2 separate regions of the Homo sapiens genome follow, and region 2 is linked to region 1. The links come from fine-mapping of genetic effects on gene expression. Tissue or cell type: blood mononuclear cells. Region 1 holds a variant in brackets; the other region holds the start of a gene. All regions are shown on one strand. Distances are from middle to middle.

Evidence for each region. PIP is the estimated chance that this variant, and not a neighbour inherited with it, causes the effect.
Region 2: it holds the start of SELENON, and the variant in region 1 is fine-mapped to the expression of SELENON in blood mononuclear cells (TOPMed, PIP above 0.99). The same link has a PIP of 0.9 or more in whole blood.

The regions. Positions count from the first base shown.
Region 1 is chr1:25,723,925-25,740,028 of GRCh38, reverse strand. All of the region lies in intron 2 of MAN1C1 (mannosidase alpha class 1C member 1), which reads right to left. Among named protein-coding and RNA genes, the nearest start is that of SELENON, 68 kb to the left of the region's middle. RefSeq lists enhancers at 14,604-15,247, 15,333-15,833. The variant T/G (reference allele first, on the strand shown) is at 9,104.
Region 2 is chr1:25,793,672-25,809,775 of GRCh38, reverse strand. SELENON (selenoprotein N) reads right to left here and starts at 9,583. Exons shown (of 12, transcript NM_206926.2): 1 at 9,363-9,583; 2 at 8,616-8,733; 3 at 4,501-4,634; 4 at 987-1,196; 5 at 626-750; 6 at 1-93. The coding sequence starts at 9,545. RefSeq lists a silencer at 9,719-9,858 and an enhancer at 9,668-10,389.

The sequences.
Region 1 (16,104 bases):
GAACACTTTCCAGCCCCCACGGGGGCCCGTAAGTATTTAGGAATGAAAGAAAGGCCCCCTCCAACTGGATGGGGAGGGCTTCAAGGGGGGCTGTGGCGCATTCACAACTCCCAGTGCCTGGCTACAGTCTGACCCTAGGAGGCATTAAAGGTAAGGGGTTCGGCTGAACAAAACGAGCCCACAGCATGGGCGTCTGTGGTGACTACGTCCAGAGCAGGGTTAAGTGTCTACTCCAGGGGCTGCCACCACTAGACAAAGACCCTCCCACCAGGCTGCCCAGAGTGACAACATGTGCCCAAAGCCTCGCCCTGCACAAAGCTTTCTGTGAAGAGCGTGTCAATCTCTACAAGGAAATGAACCTCCAGCTCCCAGAACCTCCTCCCCAGGAGCTGCTGAGCCAGGAACCAGCCTGCCTCCCTGGATCACGGTCTGTATCCCACCCTGCTGACTCTGCCATATTAATGATGATGATGTTTTTATGTGATATCATATTAGCAAAGAGAAATGGTCAGGCTGGCAACACAAACTCCAGGAAGAACATTTAGAAGAAAAAAAATCACCCAAGGCATAGCCTATTCCCACAATATCCCCAGAGCCACATACTAATGGCTGCATTTAATTTAATGAGACAATGCACAGACTTTTCTTAATCTGTAAAGAAACAACACACACGTTTTTCTCAGCATCCACAGAAACCCATGTGGCTGTGTGGCAGACCATCTTTTCAAAGGCAGCTGCTGTGGTGTATCTTATCCCACAAGAAGAACGAAGCTTTTCTTGTGACACTGACACACCTCCCATGGCTCCTCCCCTTGAACCTGGGCAGACCATTGTGATCATCTGGACCAACGGAATGAAGCAGAAAGGATGAGGTGCTATTTTCTTTATTTTTTTGAGACAGGGTCTCTTGCTCTGTCATCCAGGCTGGAGTGCAGTGGTGTGATCATAGCTTACTGCATCCTTGAACTCCCGAGAAGCAGGGGCTACAGGAGTGCACCACCATGCCTGGATAACTTTTAAAATTTTTTTGTAGAGATGGGGGTCTCACTATGTTGTCCAGGCTGGTCTTGAACTCCTGGCCTCAAGCGATCCTCCCATCTCAGTCTCCCAAAGCACTGGGATTACAGGTGTGAGCCACTGTGCCTGGCTTGACCTTAAGGCCCAGACCTTAAGAAACTGGCAGCTTCCACTTCCTGCCTCTCAGAATGTTGGATCTTGGAACCAGCCACCATACTGTAAGGAAGCCCAAGATAGCTAGCTCTCAAGGAGAAAACATGTAGAGAGCCATGTATCAGTTTTCTGACTGACAGTCCCATCTGAGGTTCTAGCCAACAGCCAGCATCAATTGCAACGCATGACTCAAAAAGCTTCCAGATAATACTACCACCCAGCTGTCGAGTCAGCCTCAGCCTTCAAGCCTTCCCAGCTGAGGGTCTATACATGACTGCACAGAGACAAGCTGTCCCCTGTTGTGCCCTTTCTGAATTACTGACCCACTCAATCTGTGAGCATAATAAAATAATTGTTTTAAGCCCCCAAGTTTTGGAGTAATTTGCAATGTAGCAATAGCAACTGGAATGTTTTTGCCACATGGGTTTTTTAGGAAGATGAATTAAAGTGACATCCCCATTACCCAAAGTTTATTGTTTAAAACCAGATCGTCTAATATGATGAGGTCTTCTGGCGGCATAAAACCCATTTACGGACTGGGACCTCTCCATTTCTATCTGGTCTGTTTCTCGTGTGTCGTGTTTTAATTTTTTTTCCTTGAGCAGGAATATTTTCCTTGAATTTTCCCATGATAGCTATTTCCTGGGTGACATAGCACTGTGCTCTGAGGCTGAATATTTCCAGGCAAAGGTTTCTTGAAGCCTCTGGAAGGAAAGATATTTTTTAGGGATTCTTCCTGGAACCCAATAGAATGCTCTTACTGGAGGCTGATACATGAAAGATGAGCATAATGATCACATCACCGCCCTGTTTAACAGCCCTCAACCTCACCCCTGCCTCAGTTCTCCAAGTTCAAACTCCTGGACACAGCGTGCAGAACCCATGGTCCCAGCCGTGGCAAGTTCTCCAGCCTCACCTCTTGTCCTGCTCTCTTTGCAAAGTGATGCTTGACCCACATCAGACCACCAGCAGCTCCTCAGACTCCCTGGCGTGCCTGCTGATATGGGTCCCTCTGCCTGGGATGCCTTCCTTTGCAGAGATGGCTCGGTAAACACCTACTCATCTTTCTGGCCTTGGCTCATACATTCAGCCTTTTCCCAAGACGTTCCTGAGCCACCAAGCAGAACTGACCATGCCCATTGATGCCCACCAACTCTGCTGCATGTGACTTTGTCCCAGCACTGTGTACACGATATTGTATGTCTCTGCATAGGTGCCTGTGAATCCCAGGGTGCAGTGGCTGGGTCTAACATTTCCCAGTGGCCCCAGCATCCATCCTCAGGCTGGGCACAGAGAAGGCAGAAACGAGTGGTTGTTGAATGAATGAATGAATGGCGATTGGAAATGCCAACAGCTCTTTCTTGGGGCTCTCCAACACTTTACCAGGCCCCTGGGACTCGGAGAAGACACAGCACACACAGTAGTGGCCAGCTACCAAGGAAATCCCTGTCGGGGGGGCGAAATGGGCAGCCACAGACGTCAGGGCCCTGGTGGAACTAATGGCTTCCTCCACCCTTCCTGAGCAGATGCCACGCTTTGCTGCCACAGCTGGCTGGAGAATGATTACTGCAGCCAATGGCTGGAGAAGGTTCCCTGTGACAAGTGGCTGGACACAGTTCACTGAAGCAGTCTGCTGGACACAGCTCCTCATTGGAAAACAGGGTGTGTTTGTAAAATGTTAATGTTTGTTTTTAAATAAGAGCTGAGGGTGCTGTCTGATCTGGAAACCTGTGTTTAAAAACTCCCTCTGACCGTGCTGTAGAGCAAGCTCTGAACTGCTTTCATCTCAAAACTGAAGCCCAGAATTCTGGAGTGATATCTCCAAAGTCACAAAACTCAGGGCAGAGCTGTGACCAGAAGCCACCTTCCAGAGCACGTGAACTTTATGTTTCCTGCGAGGCCTGGATAGGGAAGACAGCGTGGGCTTTGAAGCCAAACAGACCCGGTTCTGATCTCAGCCTCATCCATCCTTGCTGTGTGAGCTTGGGCAACTGACTTGACCTCTTGCACCCTCAGTGAAATGGGATAATGAGCCGGGGTGCAGTGGCTCAGGCATGTAATTACAACACTTTGGGAGGCTTAGGTAGGTGGATCGCTTGAGCCCGGGAGTTCAAGACCAGCTTAGGCGACATGGCAAAACCCTGTCTCTACAAAAAATGCAAAAATTTGCCAGACATAGGGGCATGTGCCTGTGGCCCCAGCTACTTGGGAGGCTGAGGTGGGAAGATTGCTTGAGCCCAGGAGGTAGAGGCTGCAGTGAGCTGTGATGGCGCCACTGCACTCCAGCCTGGGCGACAGAGCAAGACCCTGCTGCAAAAACAAAAATTAAACAAAGTAAAATGGGACAATGAGGTCTCCCTTTTAGGGTGGTATGGTGATGAGTTTGGAAGAATACATATAAAGAACCCCCATACACTGTCCAGCACTCAGCAGGCACTCACTACAGGAGAATATGACACACCCAGCATACCAGTAGGTACTCAATGCATGGGGCTGTTATCACAAGGTTCAGTTCCAGCAGAGAAAGTCACCCTCAGGCTTGGCAAAGCTAAGAGCCCTGGCAGATGATTGGCCCAGCAGAGAAGGTACTACCTTTGTGCCAGGCAAGCAGAAAGTGTGAGCCATGGGGAAGTCAGGACAGAGCTGGGCAGGGACTGGGGCATTTTAACTACCCAATAGGACTGCAGTACTCTCTTTGCCTCAATGGGGAGAAGGGCAAAAATCAGAGCCCTTTGCCGCTCATCCCACCAGACATCAAAGTCCAGCTACTGCTCTGGTCAGCTCCTAACAGCAGACACAGAGACCCTTCACACTCTGGCCTCTACTTGCCTGGGGAAATTAGATGGTTGTTCAACAAATCTTCACTCCTTCCCTCTCCCTCCTTGGGAGGAGTAAATATCCCTATCCCATTAACCTTGTGCTTTTCCATGTAACTTGCTTTGGCTTCATAGTGGGTGGGGAATTAAACTCTGCCCTTGATCTTACGTTTGGCCATGAGACTTGCCACAGGGATTAGAGGACATGATCTGAAACATGCTTGCATGGCTGGGCTTGCTCCGTTAGGCTCCCACCCTTCACCATGAGAAGAATGAACCTCAAATGGCCACTGGTCCAGGAAGGATGAGATATGTGCAGAGCAGACTTGGATCTAGCTAGATGCAGCCTAGATAAACCAAATTCCAGCCTATCTGCAGTCACAAACAACACTGTGGTCTGCCTCTCACTGTGGAATACTTTGTTATAATACAACCCTATTATGGAAATAGATGACTGATACAATGTTCTTACAGTCCTATGTCATATATATACATATATACATACACATATACATACACATATATATACACACACATACATACACACATATACACACATATATACATACACATATATAGATACACACATATATATATACATACACATACATACATACACATTTTGAGACACAGTCTCGCTCTGTCACACAGGATGGAGTGCAGTGGTGTGATCTCTGCTCACTGCAATCTCCACCTCCTGGGTTCAAGTGATTCTCATTGCCTCAGCCTCCCAAGTAGCTGGGATTACAGGCATGCGTCAGCATGCCCGGCTAATTTTTGTGTTTTTGGCAGAGGTGGGGATTCGCCATGTTGGCCAGGCTTGTCTCAAACTCCTGGCCTCAAGTGATCCACCTGTCTCGGTCTCCCACGAGACAGGCCTGGGATAACAGGCGTGAGCCACCGCGACTGGCCGCCTATGTCTTAATCGTCTTTTCATGTGTTCCACATTCTAGGCAAACTACTGCTTCCATGTGGCCCACTCTCTCCAGCCTCCAGCCCTTTCTTCAAGCTGTTTTCTCTACCTGGCATGCCCTCTTCTAACACACAATGTCCCCACACGTCTCAATCCAATGTCTACTTTAACTTCTAGATAAAATGTTTCTTCCTCCGTGAAGACATCCCTGACTCTCCCACGTGGATCTGAGGTTTTTCTCCTCTGAACGTTTATATCAAAGGCATTGTTTCTCAACTTCTATTACAGTAATTTGTGTCCTTTTCTCAAGTCCATTCCAGGCAGGGAGTGTCTTCATGGCTAGATCTAAGCCTGGTTGATTTAAGCCTACACAGACCCTGCAGGGTCAAGGTGCCTTTGGGATCTGCGGAGTGAAGGATTGGACACCCTCCCTGCACTGCCTCTATGTGAGGAGGCCACCTAGACAGCCAGTGCCCTGGCCAGAGGCAATTCCTCTGTGGTGTGAGGTGCTGGGAGCCAGACACTGACTCCATGAGGCTCTGAGATCCTAGCCCAGGGTGGACACCCCCACAAAAGCTTCTTGTGGAATGTGGAATTCTAAATGCCAGCCAACCCTTCCTTATCAGAAGTTAAGAACAATCCTTTTTTGCCTGGCACTGTGCTGTTTGTTTCACATCCATCTTTTAAAAACTCTATCATTGGGCCAGGTGCAGTGGCTCATGCCAGTAATCCCAGTACTTTGAAAGGCTGAGGTGGGTGGATCATTTGAGGCCAGGAGTTCGAGACCAGCCTGGCCAACATGGTGAAACCCCATCTCTACTAAAAATACAAAAGTCAGCTGGGCATGGTGGTGCACACCTGTAGTCCTAGCTACTTAGGAGGGTGTGGCATGAGAATCGCTTGAACCCATGAGGTGGAGGTTGCAGTGAGCCGTGATTGCGCTACTGCACTCCAGCCTGGGTGACAGAGAGAGACTCTGTCTCAAAAATAAATAAATTAAAATAAATTAAAAATCAAAAAAATAAAAGCTCGGCTGGGCGCAGTGGCTCACGCCTGTAATCCCAGCACCTTGGGAGGCCGAGGTGGGCGGATCACGAGGTCAGGAGATCAAGACCATCCTGGCTAACACGGTGAAACCCCATCTCTACTAAAAATATAAAAAATTAGCCGGGCGTGGTGGCGGGCGCCTGTAGTCCCAGCTACTCAGGAGGCAGAGGCAGGAGAATGGCGTGAGCACGGGAGGCGGAGCTTGCAGCAAGCCAAGATCACACCACTGCACTCCAGCCTGGGCGACAGAGAAAGACTCCGTCTCAAAAAAAAATAAAAATAAAAATAATAAATAAATAAATAAACAAAATAAAAACTCATTGTCCCCCTCTTACAGACGAAGATTGAGGCTTAGAGGAATTAAGTCACTTGTTCAAGATTCATTCATTCATTCATCCCAAATGTATTTTTTGGGTACTCGGGGTGTGCCTGGCACTGGAGCCTAGTGGAATGAGGGGAAAGACACACAGAGACACATCTAAATGTAACGTGTGTGATGCAGAAAAACAGAGTGGCTAAGGAGGAGCTCCATTTAGGTGTGGCGGGGGAGCACAGCCAGGAGATGGGCAGCGTTCGGGCAGAGGCTTGAAGGAGGCCCAGGAGAAAGGGGCCAAGGGCACGGCGGGCAGAATGCACAGCACATTGAAAATCCCAAGATAAAGGTTGTGTGCAGCGGGAAAGGGGGAAAGTAGTGGGCAGTGAGGGGGTGGAGGCCAGATCACACATGGCCCTGGGGCTTCAAGAAAGGGGGTCTGGATGGCTTAGGAACTGGATCTGACTGGCTGCTGTATGATGAGTGGCTGGGCCCAACGGGACTCCAGAGCTACCCATCTTGGTTTGGTGAATTGTCCTCTAGGCACTTACGGATGAGGAGGACGGGGGCAGGAGCACCTGGGTCTGTGCTTTGAGACCCTGTGAAGGCAGCTGGAGATGCTCCCCAGCTGTGGGGGTAGCTGTTTACCAGTCCAGGAACAAGAATTCAACAAGACCACAGGGCATGTGAGCCAGGTGCCTCACCTCAGCTCCTGGGGGAGCCTCCAGCTGTCTTTGACAGTGCCAGAGCCTCCCAGGCCCACGGACACAGGGTTGCAGTGCTGTCTTGGGTATACATTGTGGCCACACAGAGCTATGCATTGATCATGGCAAACACGGCCTGTGGACCACAGCCAAGAGGTGCAGATGCATGGCTCTGATAACAAGATTAATGATGATTATTGGAAAGGAGAAAAGAAAGGAAATCAAAGAGGTCCCATTCACCCCTGTAAAACATTAAGAGATAGCAGAGGCAGTGCCAGGAGAGCCTGGTAGGGAGCTGAGCCCCAGGGAGGGTCTTTGTAGTTGCTGGGATAGCTTAGCTGCAGGCAGTGGGCCAGCAGAATGGGTTGAGTCCTGGAAACCCACGCTTGGATCCACCACTTACTAGCTGCCTCAGTTTCCTCATCCTCCACAGTGGGAGCAAGACCTCCACCTTGCAAACCATCCTGAGGGCTAGAGATCATGCAAAATGCCGGACGCCGCAGACGCAAACCTGCGTGAAGGCCGACACCATGTTGCTGAGCGCACCACAGACAGCACCTCTTTTAAGTCTCACAACACCTGAGGAGGAGGGTGCAATTCCTGCCCCTGTTTTACAGATGGGGAAACTGAGGCTTAGAGAATCATCTAAACCTCCCAGGGCTGATGAACAGGGAGCCAGGACTCAACTCTGGCCATCTTCCCTGGTTGCTCTGCCCTTCACTGCTGTGCCATTCCATTCCTGCACAACTTGGGAGACTGGGCCTGGTTTGGAGGGTCCAAGAAGGTCCCAGGGAAGTACTCTTGGCTTTGAGACCACAGGCTACCTCCTGAAGGCCTGTGGCTTAGCCTGACCCTATCTCCCACCTCTGGGCTGGAGCAAGGCCCCCCTGCAGCAGGCACTACCTTGCAGAGAGCTGCCGCCTCTCCCTAGGAGCCTGGGCACCCTCTGCAGGAGCCCCCCCAGATGCCCTCGAGGGATGGCTCTTCTTACCTACACCATTCTGGGCCCCACCACTGATCCCCTGGCCCAGGCTCACTCATAGGAGGGTCTGAGTTGGTCTTTTTCTCTGACAGATGGTAGCCCTGGAAGGAAGAGATCCTGCCAGATGCATCTTTGGAGCCACCAAAGAGCCTAGTGTGATGCCAGGTGCATGGTAGGTTTGGAGTAAATATATAGTAAATTAACCCTGACATAGAACAGAGCAGGAGCCGAGAGCACACATGACCACAGGCCAGACAGGTGGCCTTCTCTCCATCAGGCCATGACGAATCCATCTGGTTTACTCCCAGCATCAGTAAAGAGGAGACCAGCCCACACTCCTATAGACCAAGGGCCTCCCTTTTCTTTGGTCCACAGGCCCCTTCCAGAACCTCACAGAAGCCACTCAGGCTTCCCCTTGCCAGACTTACCTGTGTTAGAGAGGGAGGAAGGAGCCTGAGACAGATTCCTACAAAGGACAGAGTAGGGCAGAAACTTTGGAATCAGGTAGACTTAGAATAAAATCATAATTGTCCTATTACTAGCTGTGTGACTTCTGGTCAGCTACCTTATCTCATGAGCCTCAACATCCTCCTCTGTGAAATGCAGATAATGTAGACGACTGAAGCCACTGATGCTAGTGGATACACAATGAGGTTTGTTTTCCTTAAATGTAAATGGACTACAGAGGATACCTATGAGTTGCCTCTCATTTGATGATGATGATGATGATGATGATGATGATGATGACGATGATGATGATTATTGTTATTTTTTGAGTCAGGGTCTCACTCTGTTGTCCAAGCTGCAGTGCAGTGGCACGATCACAGCTCACTGCAGCCTTGACTTCCCTGGGCTCACGTGATCCTCCCACCTCAGCCTCCTGAGTAGCTGGACTACATGAGCATGCCACCACGCCTGGCTAATTTTTTTGTACAGACGGGGTTTCGCCATGTTGCCCAGGCTGGTCTCAAACTCCTGGGCTCAGGCGGTCTGTCCACCTCGACCTCCCAAAGTGCTGGGATTACAGGCATGAGCCACCAGGCCTGGCCTCATTTGATTTTTTTAAAGCAGCAGCGATTGTGGGGGAAGCACAGGCTTGTGGTCAAACCATGTGCCTTGGCTCTGTGGCTTACCAGCCTGTGACCACAGCCAAATGAC[T/G]TAACCTCTCTGAGCCAGCAGCGAGTCTGCATCTGTCCAAGGTACTAGCAATAACCCTGTCGCAGATGTGGGTGGCCTGAATCAGGTGAAGGGTGCAGGACTCCATGAACAGAGTCTGGCAGGAGAGTGAAAAGGAGGAGGAAGTGCCCACACAGGGAGAACCCCCTCCCCGCTTGCCCTGTCCACCCACCCACAGCCAAGCCAGGCCTCATCCAGTCGTGACAGCCCTGAGCATGCTTCTGGGGCAAGAACTGCCTCTGTTTCAGACCTCAGTGCCCAAACAATTCACAAATGCAGCAAACGTGCCACGGCCCAGGAGACAGCTCTCCGCTTCAGAGAAAACACACAGTTCAATTTCCTAAAGATCGAAGCCCAGGAGCATTTCAAGGCTTTCCTGGCGAGAGCAGTTCTCAGAACTCAGGAGGCACCACCCTCATGTGACTGAACAATTAAAGCCCCTAGTATTTGTCATTCTCAGCTAAGGTTTTCGAGGATGGCTGAGAAAACTAAAAAAAAAAAAAAATCTGATTTTGGCAGTGTGGCTTTCAGAAATATATGGTAATCCATTTTTGTCAATTCACAGAAGGCACAGCTCAAATCATTAAAAAGCCATCGTGCTTAATCATGCGTGGAGAAGGCCAGTCTCTGCCTCTGAGATCATTTTAAAACGGTTTCAGGGTAACTGTCAAAAACTGACAGGGAAGCAGGGAGGGGATTATGACAGACCATAATCTGAGGAATTTCTCTTTCTGGTTCTCAAAGGGTAAGGGATTTATCTGAGAGGAAATCACCACCCAGACCTTGGCCTTGGTGCTGGTGGGGACAGTGGTGAGGAAGATTCTAGGATGCATCAGGCCTGACCTCTGTCCTTACGGAGGCTGCAGCTGCTTTCTCAGAAAGACAGTAAGCAATTTCCCAGCAAAACAGCAAGTAAATGAATGATTATGAAGCCTTGTGACAGGTGCTAAGAATAGGTGGAAGTTTATGCAGCTGTTAAGGCCTGGCTGTGAGCCACGGGGACCTGGGTTTGGAATTTGACTTTGCCACTCTGCAGCTGTGTGACCTCACACACACTCCTCACAGACCTGGGTTCCTCATCTAGAAAATGGGATGCCTGGCCAGGCACGGGGGCTCATGCCTGTAATCCCAACACTTTGGGAGACCGAGGTGGGCAGATCATGAGGTCAAGAGATGGAGACTATCCTGGCCAACATGGTGACACCCTGTCTCTATTAAAAATATAAAAATTAGCTGGGCGTGGTGGTGGGCGCCTGTAGTCCCAGCTACTCGGGAGGCTGAGGCAGGAGAATTGCTTGAACCCTGGAGGCAGAGGTTGCAGTGAGCCGAGATCATGCCATTGCACTCCAGCCTGGGTGACAGAACTAGATCACATCATTGCACTCCAGCCTGGGCAACAGAGCGAGACACCATCTCAAAAAAAAAAAAAAGAAGAAAAAGAAAATGGGACGCCTGCCTTGTAGGCTTGGGAGCTCAATGAGTTAATTCCTGGGAAGCTTTTATTGCAGTGCCTGGTACACAGTAAGCTCTCAATAAATGCTGGCCGAGTGGCTAACTCTGCTCAGGAAGCCTCATGGACCTGTGATGGATCGGGAAGGATGAGCAGGAACCCGCAGGGTGGAGAGCAACAGGGGGGACATTCCAGGCAGAGAGCACAGCATGTGCAAAGGCCCTGAGGTAGGAAGCTGGTCAGGGAGGAGCATAGGTTTCGGGGGAGGGAATAAGGGGAGCAATGTGGCCAGTCAGCTGGAGCCATCCTGGGAAAGACTTCAAATGCAGGCCAAGGGGTTTGGTCTCTATGTTGAGGGCCATGAGGAGCCACAGAGGGGTGTCTCAGGGCTGGGCCATGAGCAAACCATGTACATTAGAAGCTAACGAAGGGGCAAGAGGCTGCCGAGAAGGCTGGAACAGCATTTGGAGATCCAGAATCCTTCTGGGGTCAGAGCCACACAGCGAGTCTTCTTCCAGGTCTCAGACCACACTGGGCACTTGTTGACGCCTAGGTGACCAAACTCTCACTAGGGGTCCCCAGCCTTTATTTGAGGGTAATATCCTCTACTGTGCCAGCAACGATTCTGCACCAGTTCCCCTTCCTTAGACAGAGCCGTTGAAGGGAAATAGCCGCCCAGGCAGGCACTGCGTTTCCCAGCCTTTCTGCATCTAGGTGGAGCCGCAGGACCCAATGGGGTGTGGGCATAGGCTCCATACACCACTTTGAGGCCTGGCCCATAAAAACCATTCATGGATATTCCAAGGCCGAGGCAATCTTGGGTGTTACAACCTGAAGATGATGGCGCCTCCATCACCCTGAGTGCCTGAGTCATCAGAGGGAACAGAGCTCTCCCCACCATCAATATGACTTTACATGAGCAAGAAAGAAATGTCTGTTGTCTCCAAGCACTGAAGTCTCTGGGTTTATCTGTCACAGCAGCCAGCATTACCCTAAACAGACCCACCAGGCAGAATGACCTTGAGCACTTCACCTCCCTGAGCCTGTTTCTCTCAAACAGATTGTTGTGAGTGCCTAATACGATGACAAGTGTGAGTGCTTTGCAAGCAGCGAGGAACCACAGAGATCCGTCTGTCATGGGGTTACTGGCTTTGGTCCCTCTGAGAACCCGAGGTTGCAGAGGGGAGGGGACTCCGGCCAGTCCCTGCTGAGGCAGGGGAGTGCAGCAGCTAAGGCCCGGAGAAGCTCGCAGCAGGGGCTCAAGATCCACCAGCAGGTCCTGGCCTAGGCTGGGGACTCTCACTCCAGGCTTTAGTTCAGCCCTTTGAGAGATGCTCCTCAAATAGCTGAGCCGCCCAAAGGGAGGAGGCTGGGGCCTGGCTTCCATCTCCTGGAAGCTGCCCCGGGAAGCAGTCCTCCCAGCCTCTCTCTGATAACTTGTTCCAACCTCTCACAACTCATTAACAGGAAACTGCATTCCCTGCCAGGAAGACGCACGCCTGATTTTTCAGACATGGCAGGTAGACTGTGTTATCAAAGCCTTGTCATGTGTCTGCACGGCCCCCACGCTCTCCTGCTCTCTGGTGTCCTCGGCCAGGCTCTGTGCTCAGAGCATGCATTGCCTTTGGATGTGGCTGGGCAATCTGCCAGCTTGTCTGGCCAGGGCCAGGGGCCCAGGATGGATTCCCGTGAGGGTGGCTGAGGCTCAGCCTGTACCCCGCTCCTAAGCATCCCACACTCCCTGCCCAGAACTGGGGCTGAGACCCCACAGGGGGACAGGGTGGGGAAGGCCTGAGCAACACAGGATGTGAAGAGCTGTCTCTGGCCTCAGTGACTTTCACACAGAATACCATGGGCACTCCGTGTCCTTTTGCTGCAGGGTTCCTCTGCCATAGCTTTGGGATGGGGGTAGAGAATGCTCACCCCCAGCCTCTGGAGCCTGGAGTCGGGGGCAAGGCCATTTTGTCCTGCACGTATCCCCCACTGTCCCGTTCTCGGGCAGGGTGGGTGCAGACACCAACCTCCTCCACCTCCCATGCTGTCTCATTCCTTCACACAGTCGCTCACCGCCTCTCACTGGGGACCCGTGAGGAGTTCTCAAATCACCTGGCAGAGGAAATACCACCAGTGCCCTGGACTACGACAAGGACATGAAGTATCCATTTCCAAAGTCTATCCACAGGCAGGACTTAGTCTGTTTGTTCCTTATCCCCACCCTGAGCAGTGTTGTTAAACCCGGTTCACAGAGGAGGAATTTAAATGACTAGTGCCTAAGGTCATCCAGCTAGTCCACTGGGTAGTAATCTGAGCTGGGTCTAGCAGCCTCCATGATCATCATGGTTATGTGTCTAATACAGCCTTCATGCCAAAACCTAAACCAAGAATTTTACTTTTTTTTTTGGAAACAGGGTCTTGCTCTGTCAACCAAGCTGGAATGCAGTGGCGCACTTTCAGCTCACTGCAACCTCCACTTCCCAGGTTCAAGCCATCCTCACACCTCAACCTCCTGAATAGCTAGGAGTACAGACACATGCCACCGCAGTTGGCTTTTTTTTTTTTTTTTTAATAGAGATGAGGTCTCACTGTATTGCCCAGGTTGGTCTCACACTCCTGAACTTAAGTGATCCTCCCACCTTGGCCTCCCGCAGTGATGGGATTACAGACGTGAGCCATCATGCCTGGCTGAGAATTTTATACTCTTAATCTTCATAATTATACTGCAGTGTAGGTGGTTATATTATCTCCATTTCCAGATGACAAAACTGAGGCTCAGAAAGCTAAGAAGCTTGTCCAAAGCTGCACAGCAAATAAGCAGGAACCATGGCCCGAATGCCTACTGTACTTGTGCTCTCTCCCCACACCAGCGGCCTCACAGGTGAGATGGGGCCCACCTGGGGAAGGCAGATGATGAGGCTTCAAGATCCTACCAAGCAAAAAAGCAGGGTATAAAATGCACACATGCTGGTCACCACACCCCATTACGAAGTGTGTGTACATGGATGACATTGGATGGGATCTGGTAGTCAGTGGCTGTGTGTCTCAGAGGGAGGCAGGGCCTGGCAGCTTCTATTAGTGCCTGGTCACTCTTGGCTGAATTCTTCCTTGTAAGGATGGCTAAGGGTTAAGGTAAATAGGAACGAGTTGGGCAGAGGTTTGGTGGGTCTACCTTGCCGTGGCCCTGGAGACCGTGGTCGTGGTGGTCCTCCCTCCCTTTCCCTTTCCCCAGGTGCAGGAGCCACCTGGTCAGATAACCTCTCCACCTCACTGCATTCCAGACAAGCTCTGCCTTAGGCAGAGATCCAAGCAAACCAGAGACCACTGCTCTGAGCACTGACCTCTTTTGAAGAAGTGAAGACTTGCAGGAGAGGGGCTACAGTCGGAGCAGTGTTAAGAGAGTCCCCCATCATAGAGGCCAAGGCCAAGGAGCTGGTCTGCAATGGCCTGTAAATGGCCCTTTGTGATCCAGCCCATGCCCAGCTGGGCAGCTCACTCAGATGAAAGCCTCACCTTTCATTTCATGCCACAGCCACACTCAGCTCAGCATGCCGTACCGCTGAGCCTCAGCCCAGGATGGACCTTCTGCCCCGAGCACCCTCTCATTCTTCAGCTCTACCATGTGCATCTGTTGTTCTCAGGTGCCTTGAACCCAGCCCCCGGCTTTCAGATGGCGCAGTCTCCCTCAAATGCCACACGCCTTCGACTTCCATTAAAACAAACACTGGGAGAGAATCCTTAATAATGCCATCTAGAGGGCAAAGTGGGAGGCGAGGCAGGATCCCCAGGCACTGAAAAGTTGAGGTGGGATGGCCCAAGGACACTTTATTCTAGGAGGAGCTAGGATAACCCAAGAAGCCCTCAGCAGGCTTGCTCTAGTGGACCCCTAACAAGTACTCCTGTACTCTCACGCCACCATGCCCTTGCACGTGCTGTGCCCTTTACCTAGAATGCCCTCCTCACCTGGGAGACTCCAGCTTATTCTTCAAAGCCCAGCTCAACGTAACCTGCTCTGTGAAGTTCCCAGAGGCAGAATCAGTGGCTCCTTCCTCTGTATTCCCGTAGCACTTTGACCACATAATTACGTGTGAATCCCTCCTCTAAGAAGAGAACTCTTTCGAGGCAAGGGACGTGGCCAGTGCACCTTTGCATCTCTAGCATCCATCCCAGAGCTGGCCTAGAAAAGCCTCTGAATGAATGAATTAATGAGCTTCCTTTTGCTAAGATCCCAAGATACCTATTTTCCCACCTCCTGCTGGGCCTTCCCTCTCCAGTCACAAGAGGAGCAAACTGAGCCTTTTGTCTTCACACCACATTGGTATTGACCAGAGCTGGGTTTTAATGGTGCTTTGACAAAAGGCAGCTCCCACATTCATTTTCCTTGGCTAATTACATTTCCCAATTGAAATGCTTATCTCTGGGTTGGTGTTATAGACATAATCAGTTTCCAGAATGGATTCAAAAGAGGTGAGAGCAAGAAAATAATTAAGCCAACTTCTGATTGAATCAAATAATTAAGCAAATTTCATCGGTTGCCTGTGATCTACAGCTCCAGCCTGGGCCTGGAGAGTGTACTACTCTATCAGAGAGATCATGTCTGATTGTTTTAGAGATGGGCAGCATTTCTTCCAGTAGCAAGTAAAGGATTAGCTCTTTTAACTGAATGCAAATCAGGGTGGCAGAACCCCAGGTTCCTTGTTTAGGCAAAATATTCTGTGTTTGCAGGAAAATAATCGAGGCTGGGGTGTGCTCTGTTCCGGAGCCATGCCTAGACACTCATGGTAGAGTTTGCACCAATGGTCCCAATTCCTTACCCCTTCCTGCATTCATGTCCTTTGCACTGAGTAGGATGCCTCTCCCCACTCTCTTCCTCTGGGCTCAGACACGTGTGGCTAACTTCAGCCAATGAGAGCAAATGTGACACACGCAGAGGCTTGAAAAAGCACTTGCATGTTTCTGCTTGCTTTCTTGTCCTTTTGCCACCTCCATGGGAATACATATGAACTAGAGCTGAGATGCAGAGATGCGTGGAACAGAGCTCAGTTGGCCCAGTTGTCCAAGCCAAGGATCTCTTAGATCATCCGACAGTCAGCTGCCCCCAGGCACAAGGGTGAGCCCAGTCAAGATCTGCAGTCATAGGCTAGGCGTGATGGCTCATGCCTGTAATCCCAGGACTTTGGGAGGCCAGGTGGGCGGATCACAAGATCAGGAGATCGAGAACATCTTGGCCAACAAGGTGAAACCCCATCTCTATTAAAAATACAAAAATTAGCCGGGCGTGGTGGCGTGCACCTGTAGTCTCAGCTACTCTGGAGGCTGAGGCAGGAGAATCGCTTGAACCCGGGAGGCGGAGGTTGCAGCGAGCCGAGATTGTGCCACTGCACTCCAGCCTGGGCAACAAGAGCAAAACTCTGTTTCAAAAAAAAAAAAAAAAAAAGGTAGGCAGTCGTTTGGCCTGCCCAGCCTGGATCAGGTGAACTCTGAAGACTCCTGAGTTACCTAAACACTTATTGCTGCATGCCAGTGAGGTCTGTGGTTG
Region 2 (16,104 bases), 70 kb before region 1:
TCTTTGGAGAGGATGATGTGGCCGGTGAACTGAGCAGGGGAGAACCAAAAGGGGAAGTCGGGCGGCTCACTGAGCTGGAACTCGGCATGGATCCTGTGGGGAAGGGGATCTGCTGCACCAGAGCTGCCCACCTTCTCCCCAGGAGCCCGGGAAGCCTTGGCCAGAATCATCAGGGAGAGGAGGCTGAGTGTGGGGGTGGAGGTGGATGGGCCAGTGGGCAGCAGCGAGGCTCTCCAAATGCTGCTCATCCTTCGAGGCCCGGGTCACATGCCCCTCCTCTGGAAGCCCTGCCTGGACCCCCTCCCCCAGCCTTCACAGCTTCTGGAGGGCATGTGTGACTGGGTGTCCTTCCCACTTCTGTGTGGATGGCACAACCATGGCTACCAGCCCCGTGCCAAGCAAGTTCCACAACTTTTCTTTCTGAACCCTCACGTGCCTTACGAGGAAGTCATCAGCACCCGGATCCACAGGTGAGAAAACTGAGGCTCAGAGAGCCAAAGCTGCTTGCCCAAGACGGCAGTGGGAGGAGAGGTGGAGCTGGGGGGCTCAAGCTGGGCCCTCCCCTCTGGGCGCTGTACCGTCATGCCTCCCCGGTGCTCCAGGCCAGCCAGTGTGGCCCACTCACCGGAACATCACAGTGTAGTAGAAGTCGCTGATGGCAGTCAGGCAGGCCACAGCTCCCTGAGGGGCAAAGCGGGTCTTCACAAAGGGCCGAGGGTGGAACATGCTCAGGAGCCGGTGGATGATGACCTGGGGGCGGCGGGAGGCACGTACTGGCTTGCTGGGTCCCGCTGGGCCTGGATCCGCTGGGGTGGGGGTCAGCCCAGACCCGACGGCCCAGGGGCCCCATGGGGAGGGGGCAGGTCCAGAGGAAGGCAGGAGAGCAGGTGGAGCAGGCCTGGCACTGGGGTCCAGGCGCAGACAGAGGGGTGGCCACTCCTGGGCTCGGGCGGAGGGGCCCCACGTCGCACCCCAGCTGTCCTCACCTCCTTGCCCTTGGGCGGCGGTGGATAGAAGCGGTTGTTGGACAGGTAGCCAGTGAACATGCTCAGCTCACTGGGGATGATCCACCAGGGCTCACCCAGCTCCTGGCCTGGCGGGGGAAGGAAGGGCTGGAAGTGGCGGGTGGCAAACACTGCACTTGGTGAGGCGGCGGCTGTCCAGTTTCGGAGGCCGGACAGGGCGAGGCGGGAGACCTGGGGCGGGGGAAAGCAAAGCTCCAGGAATCTGAGAACCTGACTCCGGGGTCTCCTGTACCATGTGGGTGGAGGTCTCCCTCAAGCCCCGAGCCAGCCCACACCAAGGGAGCAGATGGACCCCAGGGAGGTTCCTGCCCTTATGATGGCCACAAGCTTAGCAATATCCCGCCAGAGAGAGGCTCCTCTCCCTGCTGCAGTGCCTCTGCAGCCCACCCAGGCACAGCCCACCCAGGCACAGCCCACCCAGGCACAGCCCACCCAGGCACAGCCCACCCAGGCGCAGCCCAGGCCAGAGCAGCTCGCTCGAGGGCAAGGTTGGAATGGGGATGGTGGGGCTCTGTGCCTCACATAGTCCCACCTCCATCCTATGCATAAGCCCATGGGCCAGCCTTGGGTGCCACCACCCTGCCTGGCTTCCCTGGCCCTCCAGCAGCCCTACTCTCCCTCCCCAGTCTCCTCTCCAAGTCTCCTCCCAGGGACTAATGTCCCACTGGCCAGCTCAGGGTTTCGGTTTGGAGCTAAGTCCGATGAGGGTGGTGGCCAATCATGTTTGAGGTGAAATCTCTAGGGTCAAGAGCAGGATGAGACCACAGGGAAGGGGAAGGAAGGCCACCCCCAGAAGGGCCCTGCCTTAAGTACAGCCTGCCCCACCCTGGGCAAAAGGCCTTCCCTAAGCCCGAGTCCTCATCGGTGACCTGCCTCGCCTCTGTCTGACAAGCTGATGGCTCGGAGAGGACGCTCAGAGACCACAGAGCTGTCTACACGTCGGCCAGCATTTGGGGAACAGCAGATTCCCTCTTCTGTCGCCACCTCCCTGGCAGCAGGAGCTCAGGCTTGGTGGGAGGTAGGAGGAAAGCAGGCAGGGAGCTCCCACAGAGACAGATTTAACAGGCGGTTCTCAAGGCAGAGCTGGCTGTGCCGGGCCAGGCCGAGCCCGCCTTCCTGGGTCCTGCTTGTAGGCTTGCCACCCCCTGCAGGGGACCTGCCAGCGATGGGTGCTGGGCTTGCTGGGGCTCTGCTCGGGGGCCAGGGCTAGGGGTGCTGCTCCTGCCTCACCCCAGTTCTTGTTGTCTGTGCGGACTTATCTGCTCAGACCAGCCCATCACTGCCAAATCCATGGAGATGGGTTCCCCATCTCCTTTTGTGGAAGGTCAGACCGGTTTTGACCACTTCCTGGACTCCTGCCTATCTGCTGCACTGTCTCCTTGGCTGAGAAGAACACGTTTATTCATTTGTTCATTCCACAAAATGTTTTATGCACCTACTGTATAGGAAGTTTCTATCAGGGTACACTGTGCACCCTGTCTTCTTGGAGCTTATAGTGGGAGACGGCAAGTAAACAGGACCCAAAACGGGCAATGCCCTTCCCTGTGAGCTCCTCCTTGGAATTTCTGTCCCTCCCTGAACCTGCAGCGATGAGGTTAAGAAAGGGGCTCCCGGCCGGGCATGGTGGCTCACACCTGTAATCCCTATAATCCCTGTACGCCTATAATTCGGGAGGCCGAGGCAGGTGGATCACGAGGTCAGGAGATTGAAACCATCCTGGTCAACATGGTGAAACCCCGTCTCTACTAAAAATACAAAGAAATTAGCCGGGTGTGGTGGTGGGCACCTGTAGTCCCAGCTACTCGGGAGGCTGAAGCAGGAGAATAGCTTGAACCCGGGAGGCGGAGCTTGCAGTGAGCAGAGATCGCGCCACTGCACTCCAGCCTGGGCGACAGAGCGAGACTCCGTCCCAAAAAAAAAAAAAAAAAAAAGAAAGGGGCTCCCCAGCACTGCTTCCCTGGGCTGGGCCAGGTGGCAATTCCGCCACAGGTGCCAGCCTCAAGGTCATTCCCAAGTTTCTTTTGCCATGTGGCTGCCAGGCTCTAGAGTTGGGCACTGCCAAGGGGCTGCTGCTGGGCAGCAGACATCCAACATCCCCTGGGGACCTCAACTTCAACATGTGCAGACTGACCTCATTCTCTATCCCCTACTCCCTCCCCGCCTACAGTCCCCATCTGGGCAAGCAGCCCACCATGCCCCTGGTCACAGCCAGAAGCCTGAGTCATCCAACTCCTGCCCACCCACTGTCCATGAGGAGCCGCTCCCTGCCCTTCCTTCCCCAGCATCCTCCAGGCTGCCCTTACTCTCCATCTCCTCCGTCTCCCCTCCAGAACTGGTCTTCTTGCCTCCCACTTCTCCCCATTCTACACATGCCCCGTCCCTGGCCTGGAGAGCCCAGGTCTGATGAGAAAGCTGTCTTATTTAAAATCTGCACGATATTCAGCCACCATAGAATGAAGGCCAAAGGCAGGCAACAAAGCCCTTGGTGGGGTCTGGCACCTTCTCTCCTGGCCCCACTGATTGGGATGCCCCTGTGTGGGTCCTGCATGCCCCCTGGGCCCAGACACACCCACTGCCTGGCCTCAGTGACCAGCCTGGCACTCCTGCCTTCAGGCCTCTGTTCGTGCTGAAGTGGCATTGGCTGAGATGAAAAGGCTGGGTCGGGCTGTGTGGGCTGGGCACAGAGAGGCAGTGTTCCTGGCAGAGGGAACCACATGTGAGAAGGCTCCCAGTTGGAAGAAAGCCTGGGGATTTGGAAGGAAGGAAGTCTGGTGTGGTTGGAACAGAGGAAGCCCACAGAGGGGAGGAGAGAGTGGGAGAGAGTGCAAAAGGGCAGGCAGGGGCTGAGGCAGCTTCATCCTGCAATGCGCTCAGGACCCTGTCCAAAGGGCCTTGGGTTGGGGAGGGGCTGGCAAGGAGAGCATCTGTCCACCTCCTACCTCCACCTTCTCAGGTGCCCTCCCCACCCCACAGCCCTCTGCTGGGGACCAAACCTCAGGTCTAGATCATCAGAGTTCAACAGAGTACCTATCAGGAGCCAGGCATCATGCTATGCCCCGTGGGGAAGAGATGGATGTGTGGGAAGTAATCATCATAGTGTGTGGGAAATAATCATCATAGTATGTGGGGCGGCTGCACTAACAGGGTCTCTACTGCACTGCTGCTTCCTCCGAGACCCCCCCAACCTGTGCTCAGTCACCCTGCTGAGCCCTCCTCATCCTGCAGTCTACCAGATGTCACTTCCTCTAGGAAGCTATCCCAGATTCCCCAGTCTGGGGCAGAAGCTAATGCTTCTCTCTCCTGCTCCCCCAGCAGGCTGTATGCCTGGACAGCAGGGACAACATCACCGCACATGGACCTCCAGGGCCTGGCTCTAGTGGGCACACAGAGGGCAGAGGAAAGATGGATGAATGGAGCAGAAACTCATCTTCGGGATACACACAGATGACCCCACTGCCTGTGGTCCCCAACTCACCCCTAGGAAGCCATCTTTGCTCTTGGTCATGGTCTCCGGGAGCAGAGGCTGGAATCGGGCTTCTATGGTGAGCGTCTCCTCGCTAGGGTCAGGGGGCAACTCCTCCTCCTCGCAGCTGGCCGCGGGAGTTGACCCTATGAGACACAGACATCGGAGAGGCACTGCCCTTATGCTACAGGGCTCACCTCTCCCTCATCATCCACACTAGCTGGTGATTAACGGAGCCAGGCAGGGGGTGGGGGTAGCTGGGGTGTTAACAGTCACCAAAGTAACAACCAGTGTATCGCATTTTAGTTTCAGGATAGCCCAGGGAGGCAGATAATAACATTACCAACTCCATTTGACAAATGAGAAAGTGTTCAGAGAGGTAAAGTCACTTCCCCAGGTCACATAGCTAGATGGTGGGGGAATCGGGATTGAAACCCAGGCCTGTTTACTCGAAACCCATGACCAACCACGACCCTTTTCTAGGTCTTCTGGGACTGAGAGGAACTCAGTCAAGGGAACCGGAGTAATGAATGAAGCAAGAAACAGAAACAGGCTCTTTGGTGTCATAGGGAGAGCACTGGTTTGAGAGTGAGGAGACCCACTTTCCCCTGCTTTTTTTTTTTTTGCGGCGGGGGGGGGGGGGCGGGGGGGGCATTGCCCCAGCTGTAGGAGGGGCTGGACTGGCAGTGTGGCTGGATTTGATTTCTTGGATCTTTTCCTGCTCAGAGATCTGGCAAGTCTATAACCTTCCCAGTATAGAAGGATTCATTTTGAAAGGCTAAGGGACAAATGACGCCTATTTCAAAAGGGGTGAGTAATAGTCACCAGTAACAAAGTGTAGCCAGCGGAGGGCGGGGGTGGGTCTTGCCCTGTCTGCCCTCTCAGGGCAGGGTAGTGGTACAGAGATGATGCCTGGCATTTGCTGACTGACTGGCTAGCAGGCTGAATGATGCATTAAAGCAGTTCTCAACCAGAAGTCCTCAAAATCACCCAGGATGCCTTTAAACTACAGATGCTCACAACCCACCTCAGACCTACTGAATGAGAATCTGCAGGGGTGAGAGTCTGGAATCTGCCCTTTTAATGAGCACTCCCTGCTGCTCCTGATCCAAATCCCTATTCTGAAGAATCACTTATTTCTGTATTTGTAAGTCAATGAGGTAAAACTTTCCAAAACGCAATCTAGAAACCCAAGAAGAAGGGAGCAACAGGAATATGCAGGGTTATTAGTAAGCCTTGCTTATTCAATTATTTTACTGATATCACAGATAAATATTAATAATAATGATTCCCAAGGCAGCTCATGCCTGTAATCCCAGCACTTTGGGAAGCCGAAGCAGGCGGATCACCTGAGGTTAGGAGTTTGAGACCAGCTTGGCCAACATGATGAAACCCCGTCTCTACTAAAAATGCCAAAATTAGCTGGGCATGGTGGTGCACCCCTGTAATCCCAGCCCAGCTACTCTGGAGGCTGAGACAGGAGAATTGCTTGAACCTGGGAGGCAGAGGTTGCAGTGAGCCGAGCACTCCAGCCTGGGTGACAGAGCAAGACTCCATCTCAAAAAAAAAAACAAAAAAACAAAAAAAACAAAAACCAATAATAATGATGATGCCCCCACCACCTAGCTGTATGATCTGGGGAAGGGACTTCACCTCTCTGAGCCTTTGCTTTCTCATTTGTCAAATGGAGTTGGTAATAATGTTATTAATTATAATACTACTACTCAGCATTTTACAGCCCTTTGGCTTTTTAATAAAAAGTTTTATTTCCTGACTTATGAGTAACATTTGCCCATTATAGGTAATTTGTAAAAATTTTAAGGGATAAGGCAGAAAATTAAACACTCTCATAACTCTACCAAATAGAACTAGTTGGCTCTATTTCCTGCTTGGATTTGATTCCCCCTGCCCTTTGATTTCTCAATACTTGGTCCATTTTTGCATTCACAGCCTAGAGGTAATGGGGGAATTCTTTTACCCTGATGGAGAAAAAGATTTCTGTGCAAAAAATTAAAAGTGCACCTCAAGCTTTGCTAACATGTCATTATGAGAGAACTCTCACTCTGGCCACAAAAAAGGACAAAGAGGTAGCTGTGCAAATGCGCAGAAGTGTATGCAAAACAAGAAGTACAGGCAAGGCCACAAGGGGACGACCTGTTTATCTGCCCATCTGCTTTCATGACAGAACTGCCTGCCACTGAGAGACATTGATACACATCCACTCCAGCTCATTAGCATTTTTCATCCAACCTTCCTCCTCTAGCAGTGATCACAGGTCACCGGGCCAGCACGGAACCAACCTACACAATACACCCCTGAAAAACAGCAGGCTAGTGACAGCGCTTTGAAGCTTATGCACCCGAAACAGCCAGCATGTCTCTCTTGCCTTTCCCATCAATGACTGACTTACACCAGGCAATCTGGGTAATAAGTAGGTGTCCAAGATCCTAAGTTCAAGAAACGTCACAAGAAGTTGGAAGAAAATGGGCACAGAGGTTAGGGTGGTGGTGGGGCAGCGAGAGAAGCGTTTTATAATTCATTAGAATGTTTCAGCCCCTCATCTTTAACCAAATAAATAAATAAATAATCACTGACTGCACTAGGCAAAAATGATAGCAAGAATGGAATAGGAGGCCGGGCACAGTGGCTCACGCCTGTAATCCCAGCACTTTGGGAGGCTGAGGCGGGCAGATCTCTTGAGGTCAGGAGTTCGAGACCAGCCTAGCTAACAAGGCAAAACCCCGTCTCTACTAAAAATACAAAATCAGCCCGGCATGGTGGTAGGTGCCTGTAATCCCAGCTCCTGGGAAGGCTGAGGCAGGGGAATTGCTTGAACCAGGGAGGCAGAAGCTGCAGTGAGCTGAGATTATGTCACTGCACTCCAGTCTAGGTGACAGAGGAAGACTCCATCTCAACAACAACAACAACAAAGAATGGAATAGAAATCTGAAAGCACCTAAGCAAAGTTTCAGATTTAGTAATGATAGTTATAGCTCCTGGCTGGGTGCGGTGGTTCACACCTGTAATTCCAGCACTTTGGGAGGCCAAGGTAAGAGGATCGTTTGAGCCCAGGAATTTGAGACCAGCCTAGGCAACGTAGTGAGACTGCATCTCTACAAAAATAGAAAAATCAGCTGGGCGTGGTAGCACATGCCTGTGGTCCCACTTACTCAGGAGGCTGAGGCAGGAGGATCAATTGAGCCAGGGAAGTTGAGGCTGCAGTGAGCTGTGACTGCACCACTGCACTCCAGTCTGGGTGACAGAACAAGACCCTGTCTCAAAAAAAAAAAAAAAGTTATAGCTGCTGTCTATTGGAAATCTACTGCATATTCGTCACTGTGCATTTCTTTTCTCTACTGAAACCTGTGAGCTGGTGCAGGACCCTGAAGCCAGATGGCCCCAGTTCTAGCCCTGGCTCCGCACCTTTCTAGCTTGGGAAACTGGGGAGCCTGCCTGTGCCTTAGTCTCTCAGACTATTAAACATGGGGATCATGACAGTGTCCATCTCCCAGGGCTACTGTGAGGTTTAAAGAGAGAACCCACATGAAATACTTAAATACCTGGCACGGAGGAGGTGGCCAAGGAATGGTTTTTTTGTTTTTTTGGTTTTGCTTTGTTTGTTTGTTTTGAGACAGGGTCTCACTCTGTCGCCCAGGCTGGAGTGCAGTGGTGTGATGTCAACTCACTGCAACCTCTGCCTCATGGCCTCTAGTGATCCTCCCACCTCAGCCTCCCAAGTAGCTGGGACTACAGGTGTGCACCACCACACCCGGCTAATTTTTGTATTTTTGTAGGGATGGGGTTTTGCCATGTTGACCAGGCTGGTCTTGAACTCCTGGGCTCAAGCGATCCTTCCATCTCCCAAAGTGTTGGGATTACAGGCGTGAGCTACCTCGCAGACCAAAGAATGTTAGCTGGTATTATTGCTCACAAGTCTGAGAAAAACAGGCTCAGGGGTTGCTGGAGCAGCTCGCCCAAGCCACCAGCTACAAAGTGTCAGAGCTGGGAGGAGTCCAGGGCCTCTGAGATCCCACGAGCTTCCCTCCACTCCAGACGGCCGCTCCTGCTCAGTGAAGACACCGTTGGCCAAGGCGCCCTCCTCCCCAGCCGCCAGTCTCTCCTGGTACCTGTTAGCTTCTCAGCAATGGGTTTGAACTCCTCAGGGCTGATGTACATATCCCCGTCAGTGTCCAAGGAGGAAAAGAGAAAAAGGCCATCTGTCCCCAGGGTCTTCAGCGCCAGTTCCTGCTTGGGAGGAGAGACTGGGCTGGGCACCATTTGGCGGCCTGGTCTCCTGGTCCCCAACAGGCAGTTGCTTCCGCATGGAGCCCCTTCTCCCACCATCTTCCTGAGCTCTCCCAGTGCCTCCCGGTCCATCTGTGCAAATGTTGCCTCTGAACTGCCCCAGAGCCTCCAGTCCCTCCTGGTCCCTGCTCATCCACTGTCTGGTCCGACTGCCCCCTCCCAGTTTGTCCCCACTCCGCCTTCCGCCTGGCCCTGGCTGCTTGGCCCTGTTCCTCCTGCACCTTCTGTCCTCTCCTGTGTCCCCTCCTCACTGTCCCAGGGCTCCCCAGTAACCCTTTAAGACTCTGCGGGAACCAGCTTCACTGTGTCCAGGTCACCCCTCTGGATAGAGACCCCTCCAGTCTGTCCCAGCCCCACACTGGCCTCCGTTCGCCTTCCCCCCATCAGCCCGGCCCCAGGCACCCCCCACCCGCCTCCCGTGTCCCCTCCTTCCCGTGCTCCCTCCCGTCCAGTCCCCCTCCGCCCTCCGCCTCCCCCGACTCGTCCATGCCCATGTCCCCCCTGCTGCCGAGGCTGGGTCCTTCAGTCCCCGCTCCCGCGCTCCCGCCCCAGCCAGCTCGGGCCCGGACCTGCCGCGCGGCCGCCTGGGCCTCGGCGTGGCGGGCGCAGACCCGGACGGCGGCGGCAGCGGCGGCGGCCAGCAGGGCTCCGAGCAGCGCCAGGGAACGGGCGCGGCGGCGCGGTGGCGCGGGAGGCTGCGCGGCGGGGCCGGGGCTGGGCGGCCCGCGTTGGCCCGGCCGGGCCCGGCCCATGGCTGCGGCTGGCGGCGGCTGCCGGCGGCCCGGGAAGCGAAAGAGCGGGGCGGGGCCGGGGGCGGGGCGGCCGGGGCGGGGAGGGGCGGGGCGGCCGCAGGGGCTGGGCGGGGGGTCGCTGGTTCCCGGCTTCGCAGCCCGGCCAGAGCCCGGGGCGGGGTCAGCTACACCGGAACGCCAAGAGGGGCTGATCGCGTCTATGCGGTCGGGTCCGTAGTCCCGGCCACCCCAGCCTCCCCAGGCCGCTTCCTGCCTCTCCGCGCCCCTTCCCGTGCTTCCGTTCCCAAAGCTAAGCCAGGCCTCTGCGGCCCACTTGCCTGGCCCAGCCCAGAGAGCGATTCCAGACTGGGGACTGGGACAAAGAAGGGGCTGGGGAGAAGCCACACACCCTGTGCTTTCCTGGAGAAGGGGCGTCGGGGGCCTCTGAGGCCTCGTGTCCTCCTCTGCTGGCAGCCGGGCACGAGGCCAGAGACTGCTGAGGGGCATCCGTCCATCCTTATCCCACCAGTTTTCTAAAAGTTCCTCTGTCATCTAGAGCAAGACAAATTAAAAAGAAAGCCCAGCCCCTGTTCCCCTCATGTGCAGTTGGGGGGCCACCTCCGCAGATGCATGGGTTATGGGGATTGGCCTTGTTCCAGGCACAGCAGGTGCAGCTCTGAACCTGCACTTCCCTGGGCCCAAATTTCCTCATCTCCACCAAGGAGTTAAAAGAGCCCCCCAACCCCCACCCTCCGGGCTCTGGTCTGGTGAGGGGAAGGCGAGGCTCCAGCCCCTCAGCAGCTGGAGCTACCAGAGGCCCTGGCTTTTCTGGAGAACAGCATGCGGCATGCTTGGAGGAGGGCCTTGGAAATAGGGGTGGGTGGTGTTGAGGACATATTTTCATGCCTGTCAATCCCCAGGACCTTGGTTCCTTGGGGCTCTCTTCCATTCTTTCAAAGCCCCCAGTTACCATGGGGTGGCTCTAGATGTCTCTACCTGCATTTTCTCAGGCGAGGGTGGCAGCTGCAGAAGCCTCTAGACAAGAATTCTGAGCCCAGAGGTGAGCAGTGCCTGCCTTTGCAGAGCCCCACCAACCCCCCCAGCGCAGGGGCACCTGTCAGGCCTGAGGGATCCAAAGGATGCTGAGCTCTGCCCATGTGCTGGACTTCAGGTGGGGTGATTTACACATTCTCTCACTCTGTTCTCAAGCCACCTTGTGAGGTAGAGACTGCTTCCCTGGTTTTCAAATGAAGAAGCCTGACCTCTGGCACCCAGGTCTATGGGTCCAAATCTCCTGCCATCCTGCCTCCCAGGCTTCCCACGGGATGACCCGGTCGACTGAGTTGGGGGTGGGGTCCTGCCTCCACTGCCCATCCTGTTCTTCTTTGGTGGCCAGCCATGGCAGCACCAGGTGAGGCCTTCCCAGAGCCCACACAGGGCGTGGCACATCGTGGGCACTCCTCAGTGTCTGTCAGATGAATGACTCCCAGGGACCTTCCAGAGTTGTGGGCCCACCCAACCCTTGCCCTGTGCTCTGGCCCCAGTGTCCTTAGAGGGACCCACTGAGAGCCTGACATCTGGCGTTGGCTTCTGAAGGCTTCCAACTGTGCCACTTTCAACTCATTATTGCTACTGTTTGGGGACACCCTGTGTACGATACATGATACTAGAAAACCAAATTCTATTCTATTGGAAGCAAAACTAGTAGAGCACAAAGCAGGTTAGGAGGGGAAGATTGATGAGCTAAGGCTTCTGGAAAATAAACAAAGGAAGTTTTCTTTCCCAGATAACTTTTATTTATTACACTTGCTTTTTCTTAAAGATACAGATACCCCACTGGTCTCTGCTGCCCAGTGCTGAAGAAATGGGTTTCTGGGGCTTGCGGGACTTGGGGGATGATTCTAGAAGCTCGGGAAGGCGCACAGTGGGGGTGGGTTAATGACAATCAGGTCAGATCAGTGTGCCTCTGTGAAAAGGATCAATCTTGGGCCCAGCTCTGGGAGATGTCAGCTCTGGGAGGTGTCAGCTCTGGGACTGGCAGTGGAGCAGGGCTGGTTTCCCACTGGAGGGCGCCCTTCCCAGAAGGGCTTGTCCCAAACCAAGATCCCCGGCAGGGCAAGGCCGTGAGAGATAGGGCCTAGTGGGTGGTTCTGGCTGGGGCAGCCCTGCAGGATCTCTTTGGCACCTTGCTATTGCCTCCCAGTGGGCAAGGGTGACACTTGGGAACTGGCAGCCAATGGGAACCACAGCAAGGTGAGTGACGCACTGGCCACGTCCATGAGGGTCTCGGAGGTTAGTGGGCACTCGCTCATTCATCCTTCCAACACATGTATTGAAGGGCTACTATGCCGTGTCCTGGCGATTGGGTGTCCATCAGAAAACAAAACAGTCTCTGCTCTTCCAGATGAGTCAATGGATACTGCAACCCTCCTCTCGAGGGGTAAGTGCTCTGAGAGGGGTGTGCACAGAGGAGGGTCCCCCTGACTATCAGGAGGGCTCAGAAGAGGCTTCCCAGAGCAGAGGTCTGGCCAGACCTTGACTTCAGGAGCTCACCAGGCATAGCACCCAGGAAGATCATTCCAGAGGGTGGGAACAGCAGAGGTGAAGGCCCAGTGATGTGAAACTCGATGGAGTATCCGTAGCGTCTCGAGAATATAGTCCAGTGGATTTGAGCAGAGGGACCCGGGGGGGAAGTGTGAAGAGGGAGGAGGAGGAGGCAGGAAGGTTGGGCTGGCACGCTGGCCAGCTTGTGAAAAGCCTGGACTTTACCACTGAGACAATGTGGAGGCATCAGAAGAGAGGGACATTCAGCCACTGCAGCACCCTTCAGACTCCCTACTGGGTCCCAGCTTCTGCCTGGGGGCACCCACACCCACCTCCCTGCGCAGAGGGTGTTGGTGTAAGCACTCCAGGCCACTCCATCCACCCATGAGAAGAGGAGGGAGCCTGACCTGCCTGCAGCCACATTTAAGTAGGGGCAGGGTCACTGCCTCGAATCCTGGTGTCTCTCTCTCTCTCCTACACACACACACACCCCTGATGTGTGTGTGTCTCTCTCTCTTTCTCTCTCCTACACACACACACACACGCGCGCACACACACGCGCGCACACACACACGCACACGCGCGCGCGCGCACACACACACACACACACATCCCTGCCTGCCTCCTAGTAGCATCCTCTCTTCTGCTTCCTGTCTCTTTGGGGTAAACTCACCAGGAAAGGCCTTCTTCCCGCAGGGGGCGCTGCTGCCCTCCAGGGAATCAAATCAAATTAGGATTTTCCATTCCAGTTTCACCGGCGACAGTGAGCCAGGAAGAGGGCCATTTGGCTTTGTTTTTTGTGTTTCTTCTCTTCATCTGGGACCCTAGAGAGGCAAGTGATTTTCCCCAAACCCAACCCTAACATCTTGGCAGCCAATAATAGGACCAACATTTGAGAACAAAGGATCACTTGGGGGAAACAGGTGCCACTGCAGGAGTTGCTTAAGCATGCCCGGACCACGTGGGCCTCTCCGCAAACTAAATACCTGCTGTGTGCCAGGGACTGTTCTCAGCCCTGGGAACACAGTATTATAGAAGACGGGCAAGGCACTTCCTCTGTGGGGGCTGAATATTCTACTCGGAGGAAGGAAATGACAGACACACAAGGTAATTTCAGAGAAAGGTAAGTGTGAAGGAGTGAGACAGGGCACTGTGGCACAGTGCCACAGGCAGGCATCAGCACCGTAGCTGGGAGGTGACACATACACTGCGCCTGGAACGGGAAGAAGCAGCCAGCTATGAGAAGAATCGAGGAAGGAGCGTCCCAGGCACGGAGAAGAGGGGAGAGCCGGTGCAAAGGCCTGGGGTGGAAACAAGCTTGGTATGTCCAGGAGACACACAGAAGGCAGAGTGAGTTATGGGAAGAGAAAAGCTTGGTGACAGAGGCTGGGACAGGACGTCGGAATCTTGCAGGCCTCGGCAACAAACTTCATTCAATTTATTTATTGAGACAGGGTCTCACTCTGTCCCCCAGGCTGCAGTGCAGTGGCACGATCTCAGTTCACTGCAACGTTGAACTCCTGGGCTCAAAGCATCCTTCCACCCCAGACTATCAAGTAGCTGGGACCACAGGTGTGAGTCACGGCACTTGGTCAAACTTCATTCTAGATATGATGTGAAACCATTATAAGGTGTTAAGCAGGGTGGTGACAATGTGTGACTTGGTTTTTTGTTAGTTTGTTTGTTTTTGAGATGGAATCTTGCTCTTGTCGCTCAGGCTGGAGTGTAGTGGCGCGATCTAGGCTCACTGAAACCTCCGCCTCCCGGATTCAAGCAATTCTCCTGCCTCAGCCTCCAGAGTAGCTGGGATTACAGGTGCCGGCCACCGAGCCTGGCTACTTTTTGTATTTTTAGTAGAGACAGGGTTTCACCATATTGGCCAAGCTGGGCTCAAACTCCTGACCTCAAGTGATCCGCCTACCTCGGCCTCCCAAAGTGCTGGGATTACAGGAGTGAGCCACCGCACTCGGCTGGTGACTTGTTTTTTAAAAGACCTTTCTCATAGCCCAGATGCAGAAACAACCCAAATTTCCAGCAATGAATGGATAAACAATGCGGTGTATCCATTTGATAAGTATTAGTGGGCAATAATAAACCTTAGCAACTTTAAGCTGGGTGGAAAAAGCCAAACACAAAGACCACGGCTTGTGTGATTCATTCAGTGAAATGTCCAGAATCCACAGATCCAGAGAGACAGAAACTAAATTAGCAGTTGCCTGGGGCTATAGTGGGAGACCGGGAGGAGGGGGCTGGGGAGTAACTGCTAATGGGTACAAAGTTTCTTCTGGGGTGATAAAATGTTCTAAAATTAGATTATAATGATGCTTGCACAATTCTGTGATATACTAAAAAAACATGAATTGTCCATCTTTGAAGTGGGTGGATTTTATGGCATGTAAATGATATCCCAGTAAAGCCTCTTGGTTTTGATGTTTGTTTAAAGATCTTTCTGGTTTCTGGGTAGAGAATAGAGTTAGGGGATGGACAGAGGAAGGAGGGAGACAGGAGGCTAATGCAGTCGCCCAGACATAAGATGGCAGGGATTGGGCAGGCGTGGACAAGATATATGAGTGTAGCAGAGCCACAGACAGGATTTGCGGATGGGTCAGAAGTGGACGGCAAGAGGAAAGACCAGCATCAGCCATGGGTTGAGCTTGGGTAGCTGGTGGCACCATCCTGAGATGAGGCACCCTGGAGGGACCCCGGCTGGGGAGAAGGCTTGGTCCAGTCTGCCAGGTTAAGATGCCTGAGAGCTGGCTGGGCGTGGTGGCTCACGCCTATAATCCCAGCACTTTGGGATGCTGGGGTGGGCGGATCATGAGGTCAGGAGGTCGAGACCATCCTGGCCAACATGGTGAAACCCCATCTTTACTAAAAATACAAAAAATTAGCTGGGCGTGGTGGCGCACGCCTGTAGTCCCAGCTACTCGGGAGGCTGAGGCAGGAGAATCGCTTGAACCTGGAAGGCTGAGGTTGCAGTGAGCCAAGATCACACCACTGCACTCCAGCCTGGTGATAGAGGGAGACTCCAGCTCAAAAAAAAAAAAAAAGATGCCTGAGAGTCACCCTCACGGAGGTGTCAAGGAGGCAGTTGTGTGTGTATGACTATGGGGCTATGAACGGTAGGGAAGGGGGGCGTGGATTATAAATCTGGGAGTTGCCAGTCTAAAAATGGCACTTAAAGCCACAAGATTCAATGAGATCATTGAAGAGAGAGAAGAGAAGCCGCCTTTGGCCTATGTGGCCACAGATGCCGCCGTGTCTTGGAATGTTGAGTGGCTTTGGCTGGATTTACAGGCATGGAGCTGTGGCTGTGATTAGCCAAAAAATAGATTAACGTTAGAGGTCATGACAGGCTTGGCTTGGCTCTCGTACTGTCCAGGCTGGGAGAGAGATTTGTTTCCCGGGGTCAGTAAATGCCCCCGGGACTTTGCCAGATGGACAGATTTAGTCTCAGCATCACGAGTGCAGAGGTCCTGGTTACCCAGCCTGGCTGCCCACTAGTCACCTGGGGCCTTTGAAGGAGACCAATGCTTGGGGCCAACCCCCAGTTGGTTGGGGGAAAGAGGGACATTTTTACCAGCTCTCCAGTGATTTTGAGGGAGAAAATGTAAAGACGGCCAAGTTCCACACACAAGCCACAAAAAAGAGTTTGACATTCGGGGCCTTTCCAACGGTGAGTGTCAGGCACAGGCAGATGGTACCGGATGATCTGGCCTGAATTCTGTTCCACTTGTCTTGTGTGTTTTGAACTGGGTCCAGGGCCAAGGAGGGAACCGTGCTGGGGGGTCAGCCACCCTGGTCTGCTCAGGACTGACACTGATGGAGCACCGAGGATGTGGGATATTCGGTCCTACAAGCAAGAAAGCCCTAACTGGGATGAGCTAGTCACCCAAACAAGGGAGAGGCATAGCTCAGCTTGCATCTGAGAGGCTTTATTTCATCATCTCTGATCTTGGTTGTGCACTTCAGAGGTTTTTTTTTTTTTTACCACAAATGGGTACAAGAGGGCTTCATAATGACCAGACAAGAAAGT